Homo sapiens: one gene and its partners. The protein of the gene in region 1 interacts with the protein of each later gene in a biochemical or structural test. Each region holds a gene or a part of one and is shown in the gene's direction. Other genes may lie near its edges. The genes, in order: C11orf52, SRPK1 and LRRK1.

Region 1 (4,420 bases):
TGGCTTTTGAACTGGGAGGAGAAGGAGTGGGTAACAAGATGAAAAGGATACAGTTAATGGTAGAGTAGAGTACAGAATGGATTGCATGGAAGAAGCATGGCCATGAAATAGTGCAATGATTGGGGCACAAGAAAAGAAAGTAAGATGTGGGAACCAGGCGTGGTGGGAGGGTCACTTCAGGCCAGAAGTTCAAGTCCAGCAGGGGCAACATAGCAAGACCCTATCTTGGCCAGGTGTGGTGCCTCACACCTGTAACCCCAGCACTTTGGGAGGCTGAGATGGGAGGATTGCTTGAGGCCAGGAGTTCGAGACCAGCCTGGTCCACATAACAAGACCCCCATCTCACATTAATTTAAAAAAAAAAAAAAAGACCTTGTCTCTAAAAAGATTTTTTTTTTTTTAATTAGCTAGGCACAGTGGTGTGAGCCTGTAGTCCCAGCTACTCGAGAGGCTGAGGGGGGAGAATCTTTTGAGCGTAGGAGTTTGAGGTTGCAGTGAGCTAGCCACTCAACTCCAGCCTGGGTGACAGATTGAGACCCTGTCTTTAAAAATAAAAGAAAGAAAGAAAATAAGATGCTTTGTAATAATAACAACAATGCCTAACTCTTACTGAGTGTGTCCCATGTGCCAGGCCCTGCACTAGAGCTTTATTTTTCACCACAATCCTGTAAGATTGTCACTCTTACCCATGTTTCATAAGAGGAGGAGTTCAAAGTCCAGGGTATTCTCTGTGGAGTGCAGAGCTGAGTGGTGGGCCCTGAACATCCACTTAAAGGACAATAACCAGGCATCCGAGGAAAACACTAAAAATGGGGTGAGAGAACTGAACACAAGAATGATGGGTTTCACAGATTCTCGTAGAGCCCATATTTTCTACTGGTGAGTGCGGGTGAGTCTAACTTTGGGTTACTGGAAGGAGACGCAGAGTTGAGGGGTAAGTGGAGAATCAGTAGTTCTGAACTGTGGATAAGGAAATGAGTGGTTAAGAAGTGCTGAGGCCATCCTGATCATAGAATCATCTGATTTTATACCAGAAAGGGGATTAGATTCAGTTTTTTTCATTTCACAGCCCTAGAAACTTAGGCCCTATAAAGGTTAAGTGATTTGCCCACATCGATTTCAAATAGCAAGGGAGAATATATGAGGAACCCATTTCCCCAAACTTAAGTTTCCAAGAGACTCCAGTATCCCAACCCAGATTCTGTACAAAAATAATAAGAAACTGGTACCAATTGCCTCGAAAGTGAAACTCAGTTAAACCTGAGTGGTGCTGAGCAAACTACTACATTAGGCACTCATCTATTATAGAGGATATATTTCAAAGACAGAGTGATGTAATGGAGAAGCATTTCGTAAGGAAACCAAGAGCCCTTTTCTATCTCAGGTTTCTTTTTATTGAAGCTTGAAGCTCAAGTTCATGGCTTCATCAAAAGACGCTTCAAATCCTGAAGTTGAGATAGCTCTCACCTGGAGCCCGTGTGTTGTTCTACCCTTTGGCTGGGAACACAGTCACCTGGGAATCATTCCAGCAGGTGGCTTCAAAAGTCCAACCTGCTAGGTTGAAATCTGACACTGACACAGACTCCGGGAGCTGCCGCGGAAAGCTCAACCAGGAACCCGGAAATGCACAAGCCTCTTGATGCATAAAAACAGCTGGGCTCCCTTGGAGACAGAGCGCCATGGGAAACCGGGTCTGCTGCGGAGGAAGCTGGTGAGTAGGCTGGAAGGGCAAAGGGGAACATCTATCTCTGTTGGTGGATGTAGAGGCCCCGAAAATCAGAGGACCTGGAGATAGTTGTCTGCCAGCCTCCCACTGCCACCTTCCTCTGCCTGGTACCTCCTTGTTCCAACACCAGAGCAGCACCTCCTTTCAGGAGGCCTTAGAAGACAGAGCCAAGTGGCTGGGCGCGGTGGCTCACGCCTCTACTCCCAGCACTTTGGGAGGCCGAGGCCGGCGGATCACGAGGTCAGTAGATCGAGACCATCCTAGCCAACATGGTGAAACCCCGTCTCTACTGAAAATACAAAAATTAGCTGGGCATGGTGGCGCGCACCTGTAGTCCCAGCTACTCGGGAGGCTGAGGCAGGAGAATCGCTTGAATCCGGAAGGCGGAGGTTGCAGTGAGCCGAGATCGCGCCACTGCACTCCAGCCTGGCAACAGAGCGAGACTGTCTCAACAACAACAACAACAAAAAAAAACAGAGCCAAGCTAGCTGTCTGCGGAATGGCCAGAGCAGGGCAGGAATATTGAACCGGCATTGTTTTTCTGTGCCCTCTTCCTCCCTTTCCCCTTCTTTCCCTTTCTTCCTGGATGAGAGTAATAATTGTAGCACTTGAGAGCTTTCTATGTGCCAGACATTTTACAGTCTCATTTAATTTTTCCAATACTTTATGAGGTAAATGGTTTTGCCCCTCCTCCTATTTTACAGTCAGCTGAGAAACTGAGGCTCAGAGAAATTAACTAACTTGCCTAAGGTCACATGGCTGGTAAGCAAGTAAACCAAGATTCCAACTGAGGCCCACCTGACTTCAGAGGCCACCTTTTGAACCACTGCATAATATTGCCTCTTAGATCAAGCAAGTCAACTTTGAAGCAATGTTTATTTAAAAGGGCAGAAGTGCCAGGCGTGGTGGCTCACGCCTGTAATCCCAGAACTTTGGGAGGCCGAGGCGGGTGGATCACGAGGTCAGGAGATCGAGACCATCCTGGCTAACACGGTGAAACCCCATCTCTACTGAAAATACAAAAAATTAGCCGGGCGTGGTGGTGGGTGCCTGTAGTCCCAGCTACTCGGGAGGCTGAGTCAGGAGAATCCCTTGAACCCAGGAGACGGAGCTTGCAGTGAGCCGAGATTGCACCACTGCACTCCACCCTGGGTGACAGAGCAAGACTCCGTCTCAAAAATAAAATAAAATAAAATAGAATAAAATAAAATAAAATAAATTAAAGGGCAGAAGTGGTCGGATGCAGTGACTCACACCTGTAATCCTAGCACTTTGGGAGGCTGAGGCAGGCAGATGACTTGAGGCCAGGAGTTCAAGACCAGCCTGGCCAACATGGCAAAACACCATCTCTACTAAAAATACAAAAAAATTAGCCAGGCATGGTGGCACACGCCTGTAATCTGAGCTACTTGAGAAGCTAAGGCACGAGAATCCCTTAAGCTTGGGAGACAGAGGTTGCAGTGAGCTGAGATTGCGCCACTGCAGTCCAGACTGGGCAACAGAGCGAGACTATGTCTTGAAAAAAAAAAAGAAAAGGAGTTTGAGACCAGCCTGGGCAACATAGGGTGGCCCCATCTCTACAAAAAAATTAAAAATTAGCTAGGCGTGGTGGTGCGTGCTTGTAATCCCAGGTACTTGGGAGGCTGAGGCAGGAGGATCACCTGAGCCCTGGGGGTAGAGGCTGCAGTGAACCATGATCACACCACTGCACTCCAGTGTGGGTGACAGAATGAGACCCTGTCTCAAAAATGAAAATAAAAATAAAAGGGCAGAAGTAGGAAAAAGAAGAATATCCATGGAATATCTGAATATGACTTTCACACTTATTTACTATGTGACCATAGGTAATAAGTCCCTTAATTTCTCTGTATCCATCCTCACATGTAAAATGTAGATAATACATCCTACATTGTGTAGATCACAGGCTTATTTTGAAGAGCAAAGGATATAGCGTATGTGAAAACCTCATAATAAATTATCTGTGGGGTTGTTACTATTCTTTCCCAGAATTTTCATCACTGCCATGCCGTAAATTCCTGGTCCTGGTTTTATTCTGTCTACTGCCTTCCATGCCTGGGGCAGATCTGGAAGATGTCATGTTATAAATAAAGCATCATTATATTTAGATAGACAAGTGAAGTGCATTGGAAAACACACAGGTTTTGGAGTAGTACATTGGATTCAAGTCCTGCCCTACTACTCATTCATTTATCCATTCATTTATTAAACAGTGTTTATTGAACATGTACTACAGGCACAGTGATAGACACAGAAGACATAGTAATAAAAGGACATTTGGTCCCTGCCTTGTTGAGTAAGAAATACCCTGAAGGTCCAACATTTGGTAACTGTCTAAATACATGGCATATCCAATTAATGGGAAATACGTAGCCACTTCATAAAGAATGTTGGAAGAACACCTAACATCATGGAAAATTTTACTCTTTATTAAGTTAGTAAAAAAGGCCCTTCATTAACCCGTCTGTAAAATGGGAACAAAAATATGTGTTTCCTGGAATGTCAGGATTGAAAAAATAAAGCACCCTTTAAACTCTGAGGTGCCCTATAGACATAGGACATCTAGAAGCACAGAAAAGCTTCTAGAGAAGGAGATGTAACAGCTTCTTTTATTCTCTTTCTTCCCAAGTGTTGGTATTCTTTTTTCATTACTGATTAGTTCTCTGATGGTGATAG
Region 2 (3,648 bases), on another chromosome or scaffold:
CTAAGGCAAACTATAATAAAATTACCTCTTTTATTGTACACTTCTGAACACACATCTGAATTTTGTCTAATTTTGTGTGGTGTGATTTTTCAGAATATTGCTTTAAGCTTCTTGTCCTCTTTTCAGGCAAATTAAAGCGAAATCAAAGGAAACTTTTAGAAAATGCGTTGTATCACTAAGTAAAGAGTCTATGATTTTTGTCAGTTAGCACAGAAACTTTAAGGGAAGTAATTTCTTATGAAAAATACTGAGTAGGCCGGGCACGGTGGCTCAAGCCTGTAATCCCAGCACTTTGGGAGGCCGAGGCAGGTGGATCACCTGAGGTCAGGAGTTCAAGACCCACCTGGCGAACATGGTGAAACTCTGTTTCTACCAAAATACAAAAATTAGCTGGGCATGGTGGCAGGCTCCTGTAATCCCAGCTACTGGAGAGGCTGAGGCTGGAGAATCACTTGAACTGGGGAGGCAGAGGTTGCAGTGAGCCGAGATTGAGCCCACTGCACTCCAGCGTGGGGGACAGAGCCAGACTCTGTCTAAAAAAAAAAAAAAAAGATACTGTCTAAAAGAAAGAGAAAAAGAGAGAAAGAAAAAGAAAGGAAGAAAGAAACTGGATGAACAATTTAAGGTATGATTGTATTTATTATACTAAGCCTCAACTTTGAAGAGGCTGTGAATGTAGTTTATGTTTAGAGTCTAAAAGGGTGTAATTGTTCACATTCTATTATAATGAAAAACTGACTTGTTTTATGTTTTTATCTGGATGTTTTAGAACTGTAGAATTGAAAGGAACCATAGCTGATTTTCTTCACAGGTATCAAAGTGACGTGCGGTGAGCTAATGGAAAGGTTATTGCAACAGCTGTGCTTATAAAGGTCAATCAGATTTTTCAGTAAAAGATGAAGTCGAATCTTACTTAGATTGGATAAATCTAAAATCACCTGTTTATAAGCTGTTTTTAAAATGTATAAAGACATTTCATACATTATTTTACTTTTCATGCATGTTTAGCTTCCTTTAATGCACATTCCTAATTGCTGTTGATCTTTTTGTATTTAAAGGAGACAGGACTACATATGACTAGTTTCATGTAGACTATGGGAAGAGATTTGAACAGAGAAGCAGGAAGGAAGGGATGGGAAAGGAGAGAGAACAGCTGATAATGTGGAAAGACTATTGTTCTAAAGTCAATTCTGAGTCATTTCTTAGAAAAATACAAATCACAGATTACCCAGATGTCTAAGGAAAACTGCTGCAACCATCTTAAAACAGTATCTTGTGCTTATTGTGGTCACTTTGTAGATGGCTCTCTCTCTCTCTCTCTCTCTCTCTCTCTCTGTGTGTGTGTGTGTGTGTGTGTGTGTGTGTGTGTGTGTTCAAAGAATTAAGAATTCTAAACCAAGTAATTTTTTAAAAACCTACACAGGGTGTCGTGATGGCCATATCTGTTTTTTCTATTATTTAATCTTGTAATGTTTGTCATTGTGCCAGATTTCTTTACTAATTTGCAAAAGTTCCAAGTAAAACTATAGAAATACTCTCAAATCTCCCCAGTAATGCTGAGTACCTTTATTTGACCCTAACTAAGCAAAGAAGGCTTTTTAACTATTGAAATATCTTAGTAGGTTTGAATTTCAAGTTCCAAGATATTTTTCTTTTTCTTTTTTGGAGTTCAATGGCATAATCTCGGCTCACTGTAACCTCTGCCTCCTGGGTTCAAGTGATTCTCCTGCCTCAGCCTCCCGAGTAGCTGGGATTACAGGTGGATGCCACCACACCCAGCTAATTTTGTATTTTTAGTAGAGATGGGGTTTCACCATGTTGGCCAGGCTGGTCTCAAACCCCTGACCTCAGGTGATCTGCCCGCCTCGGCCTCCCAAAGTGCTGGGATTACAGGTGTGAGCCACCGTGCCCGGCCCCCAAGATATTTTTCAAACATTGCTAGGTGGTTTCTCTGTAGCTTCTGTCCATTGATTCCCTATTTTATTCTTTTCTCCATTTGTTCTTAGCCATTTTTTCCTGTCTTTCTTCATCCTTATCTCCCAGCTGTCTTTGCTCCTGCATTATTTACTACTGTTAGAGATTGAAAGGATATAACTCAAAACACTATGTTAAGGGTTAGTAATGGCTCATGTCACTCTCCTGCCTCTACCCGTTTTCCCAACATAACATACCCACACAGAGCAGTACATCCACATTCGTGTGTATGTTTGTTCAGGCGTTTTTTTCTCTGGACCACTATCGTTTCTCATATTAAAATATAAAGGGCCCTAAACTAGAAAGTTAGTTCTTACAGAATTCCATATAAACTGGCTCACTCTACTTGCCTGGAGGGTGAGGGGAAAAGAATGATTAAGAAGGAGGACAGTTGGTTTCTCTATATAATGTTGACATTAGCCAGTCATTATTGTCTGCTTATATGACCTCCTATGTCTTTAGGATACTTTTTTTTTCATGCTGTATTCTGTCTGTTTTGCTAGCTCCTCTTATTCATAATGTGCCCTAAATGTGCTTACTCAATAACATAAGCCTTTTATTTTCAGCCTTTTGTTATTTTCTTTACACTGTCTCCCCATTAGATTTTTTTAAAAATATAACCTTGTGGGCCGGGTGCAGTGGCTCACACCTGTAATCTCAGCACTTTGGGAGGCCGAGGTGGGCGGATCACGAGGTCAGGAGACCGAGACCATCTTGGCTAACACGGTGAAACCTCATCTCTACTAAAAATACAAAAAAAAGCTGGGCGTGGTGGCAGGCGCCTGTAGTCCCAGCTACTCAGAAGGCTGAGGCAGGAGAATGGCGTGAACCTGGGAGGAGGAGATTGCAGTGAGCCAAGATAGCGCCAACTGCACTCCAGCCTGGGCGACAGAGCAAGACTCCGCCTCAAAAAAAAAAAAAATAACCTTGTGATTTCAATTACTAGTGCTTCTGATTGCTACTCATTAGCTTTCTTTCACTCAAATTATTTGGCTCTTCCTTTTTGCCACTTGATTATGATGTTCTGTCAAGTTTTTTTTTAAGCTACTATATGTTTGGTCATTTTAATATCACTGCTTACAAATTAAAACATTTTCAAATTGTAATACTTCTCTCAACAAATAAAAATTAAGCAGATGGAAGCTAGAAACATAAGAGAATAGCTTTACAATCCTATTTTATGTTTAGTCTTTTTAAGTAATCTGCATTTTAAATAATCTTGTTTTGATAATTTTTTTTATTTAATTGCTTTTTTATTTTTATTTATTTTGAGACAGAGTTTCGTTCTTGTTGGCCAGGCTGGAGTGCAATGGCGCAATCTCGGCTCACTGCAACCTCCGCCTCCCAGGTTCAAGCGATTCTCCTTCCTCACCCTCCCGAGTAGCTGAGATTACAGATGCACACCACCACGCCCAGCTAGTTTTTGTATTTTTAGCAGAGACGGGGTTTTGCCATGTTGGCGATCCACCTGCCACAGCCTCCCAAAGTGCTGGGATTGAAGGCATGAGCCACCATGCCCAGCCTATTTAATTGCTTGTTTAAAAAAATTTCCTGGCCAGGTGCAGTGGCTCACGCCTATAATCCCAGCACTTTGGGAGGCCAAAGCGGGCGGATCACGAGGTCAGGAGTTCAAGACCAGACTGGCCAACATGGCGAAACCCCATCTCTACTAAA
Region 3 (3,648 bases), on another chromosome or scaffold:
TGTGCCCCCAGATCCCAATGTTGGTTTTCTCTGGGGAATAGATGACGGGCTATTTTCTGTTTCCTCTTTAGACTAGTCTGTCTTTTTCAACGTTTCTACAAAGAGCAGAAATCCATAAACAACCCACCAGAACGTGTCAATCCATGTAACTTTCCAAGACCCATAGGGGATCCCCAAGTCCAAGTGCATCCTCATGGGAATGGCTTGGGAAATGCCAGACACTTTCCAGCCTGGGTCTCACAGTGGACCTGTCTGCCTCTGCAGGACCAGAAAATCTACATCTACACCCTCAAGGGCATGTGCCCCTTAAACACACCCCAACAGGCCTTGGATACTCCAGCTGTCGTCACCTGCTTCTTGGCCGTGCCTGTTATTAAAAAGGTGAGGTCGGGGCAAAGGCAGGTATGCAGGTCTCTGATGCACTTCCACGCCTAGGAGGCGTCTCCTAGCTATGTCAGGGTGGCGCCTGCAGAGCCACACCTAGGACCACCTGGCCTAGGACGTAGACTTAGAGACGGTGGGAGGAAAGATATCAGACCTGGTCCGTCATTAGTGCCTTCCGGTTTGCAAAAACCTAAGTCAAGTCCCCAGCCAGACTGCAGGCCGAATGAAAAACCCCCTTTCACATGCAAATGCCCTGACTCAGGTGGAAGGACTGTTGGTACAAATGGCACGGTGAGCAGTCATGCGTGTGCCCTTCCCCTATCCGGAGCCTCTTCCCCACCTGCCCAGGCCAGAGCCACCTCACAGCCACTTGATCACCAGGTCCTGGAGGTCCTGATCTCCCTCCCTCCATCTCTGCCTCCCGCCAAGTACTCGCCGTCTTACACCAGACGCAGTTTCTCTTTGTGCAGCATAGCCCTGCAGACTCAGCTCTTTAACCTCCTAGCCCTGGCCTTTCTAAATGAGACCCCAAGGGGCACTCTCCCCATTAAAGGCCCAGCCAGCTGTGCTGCACCTTGGGATTAGCCCCAGCCTCTATGAGGCTGGCCTCCAGTCCCTGCTGGGCCCGGCACCCTCCCCACAAAGCACCCCACTCTGTGCTGGGCCCTTGACATCCCAGCCTCCTCCAGGAACAGCCCCTCCACGCACCTCTTCCCAGACGGCCTCCGATTCAGTTCTCAAGACCCGGGGCCTTGTCCCCTCCTTTGAGAAGCTGCCCCTCAGTGGGGGGCAGCTCCCTGGCTTTTCCGGGCTCCTCCGCCCACAGGATTCAGGCACGGCTCAGCCAGCTCTGGTTTCATCCACCCTGAGGGGCCTGTCTGTGCATAGGCGCCCTCACTAAATGCACAAGAAGCCTTTACTGGTGTTGCTTTGTTAAAATGTGACTGTCATCATCCAATTCCAGTTTGCCCATCTACAAAACAGGTATAAGAAGAGACAGAAGGCCTAGCATACCCAAAGGTCTAGGCCGGTGTGCTTGGTAAATGAGTATTATTATTACTTCTGGATGGTCGCAAAATACATGAACTCTTCTCTTCACCCTTCTTCAGTTTCATTTAAAAAAAAAAAAAACAGGTATGAAATGAACCTTAGAGTCATTTATGACCATGGCCCCACAGCGAGGCTACGCAGCTTGGGACCAGGCCCGTACCAGAGCGCAGGAGAACACGACACAAAGTGTTATTGAGGCCACCGCTGGCGAGAGCCCCCAGCCAGGGCACCACCTCCTGCACGACCAGAGGGAATAAAGCCTGCTCTGTGCAGGGCCTCCTGGGCAGGGTGTCTGCCCCCTCCAAGGCCGCCAGCGCGAAGCCTGCATTCTTGCACGCGCACCCACGTTCACACCCAGCCGGGACGTGGCACTCACCGCCCTGGCCGGGGCCTGAGCCAGGACTGCAGATAGAGACCTGGAGCCTGTTTGCCTTGGCTGCCTTCTTTCCCTAAAGTCCTGGGGATGGATTTCGATACGCTTTCTTAGAGCATGTTGTCCTGGACAGTGAGCTACGGGTCTCCACTCCATTGCCCTGCACAGCCAGCCTCCTGAGCTCCCCCAGCTCCCCACAAGGAGGCTTTCTGCCCTGCCCCCTCACTGGCATGAGGCCCAGCTCCCTGCTCTGCCCTGACTCCAGCTTTGTTCTGCAGACCTCTTCCCACCCCCACCACAGCCGACGCGGTGTCTAGGCTGCGGAGCTGCACTCTGTTCCTGGCTCTGCCCTGGGAGGTGCCCCGGGGCGGTCTGGGGTGGGCCCAGCATTCAGCAAGGTCCCTGCAACTTTGGCCTCTGCCCGGTGACCTCTGGCGGGTGTAGAAGAGCTCATGCTTCATTGAGGGGGTGGGGGGCACCCTGAGGACCCTGTCAACGTCAGCTGAACCACAGGCATCTCGATAGATGTAAGCTGGGATGAGGGCTCAGCAGGCTGAGACAGGCCTCCAGAAGAGGGTTGAGTAGGAAGCGATTTCTTCCAGAATTAGTTCAGCAAACACATGTCATCCACTTGGAGCAGGAGCCAGGTGGAGTCACAGGGCCACCAAGATGAAGGAGACTGAGCCCTTCCCTGTGCCAGGCTAGTGCCACGGGGATGCTGGTGGGCTGGGAGCCCATCCTTATGGAACACTCTGCCTGGTGGGGGGGGTGGCAGGCAGGGGGCAGTGCACAGATGCTTGCCATGCCCCCACTGCTGTCATGTTAAGCAGCACCGAGAAAAGGGCGGGGGCACCAGGTCCTGCCTCTGAAGGAGGCCTTGGTGGCCTCAAGGAGAAGGCAGCTCCCTGCTGCTCGCCCTGCAAGAAGCTGGCAGAAGCAGAGGCAGCCCATGTGGTCCAGGTGACACGCAGCCTTACTTGGTGCCACAGGCCCTGCCTCTGGGTGGCACATTCCTTTCTTTGCTGCAGGGATGGTAGATATGGCTCTGCGGAGTCAGAGCTGCACTTCTTTAGGAGTAGCCCCGGCCTTTCTAAGAGATTTGCTGCCCTGAGGCGCACTGGTGGAAAGTGACTGCCCGCCTGGTGTGGGTGCAGATGAGTCCAGTGCCTACTCTGTGTCTCTCTTGGAATGTGTGAAATGGAAGGATGTGACACATCCCTGTCTCCTTCCTTCAGAATTCCTACCTGGTCTTAGCGGGCCTCGCCGATGGGCTTGTGGCTGTGTTTCCCGTGGTGCGGGGCACCCCAAAGGACAGCTGCTCCTACCTGTGCTCACACACAGCCAACAGGTCCAAGTTCAGCATCGCGGATGAAGACGCACGGCAGAACCCCTACCCAGTGAAGGCCATGGAGGTGGTCAACAGCGGCTCTGAGGTCTGGTACAGCAATGGGCCGGGCCTCCTTGTCATCGACTGTGCCTCCCTGGAGATCTGCAGGCGGCTGGAGCCCTACATGGCCCCCTCCATGGTTACGTCAGTCGTGTGCAGCTCTGAGGGCAGAGGGGAGGAGGTCGTCTGGTGCCTGGATGACAAGGCCAACTCCTTGGTGATGTACCACTCCACCACCTACCAGCTGTGTGCCCGGTACTTCTGCGGGGTCCCCAGCCCCCTCAGGGACATGTTTCCCGTGCGGCCCTTGGACACGGAACCCCCGGCAGCCAGCCACACGGCCAACCCAAAGGTGCCTGAGGGGGACTCCATCGCGGACGTGAGCATCATGTACAGTGAGGAGCTGGGCACGCAGATCCTGATCCACCAGGAATCACTCACTGACTACTGCTCC

The links.
Region 2: of the proteins of C11orf52 (region 1) and SRPK1, one has a biochemical effect on the other in vitro, tested with the Homo sapiens proteins (one large-scale study listed by BioGRID and IntAct).
Region 3: the proteins of C11orf52 (region 1) and LRRK1 form a complex in vitro, tested with the Homo sapiens proteins (one large-scale study listed by BioGRID).

The regions. Positions count from the first base shown.
Region 1 is NC_000011.10:111,917,294-111,921,713, forward strand, and holds the start of C11orf52 (uncharacterized protein C11orf52), read left to right. Parts: upstream 1-1,619; 5' UTR 1,620-1,679; coding exon 1,680-1,711; intron 1,712-4,420.
Region 2 is NC_000006.12:35,882,986-35,886,633, reverse strand, and holds part of SRPK1 (SRSF protein kinase 1), read left to right. Parts: intron 1-3,648. UniProt on the Homo sapiens protein: Serine/arginine-rich protein-specific kinase which specifically phosphorylates its substrates at serine residues located in regions rich in arginine/serine dipeptides, known as RS domains and is involved in the phosphorylation of SR splicing factors and the regulation of splicing.
Region 3 is NC_000015.10:101,062,310-101,065,957, forward strand, and holds part of LRRK1 (leucine-rich repeat serine/threonine-protein kinase 1), read left to right. Parts: intron 1-264; coding exon 265-381; intron 382-1,092; exon of another isoform or gene 1,093-3,042; coding exon 3,043-3,648.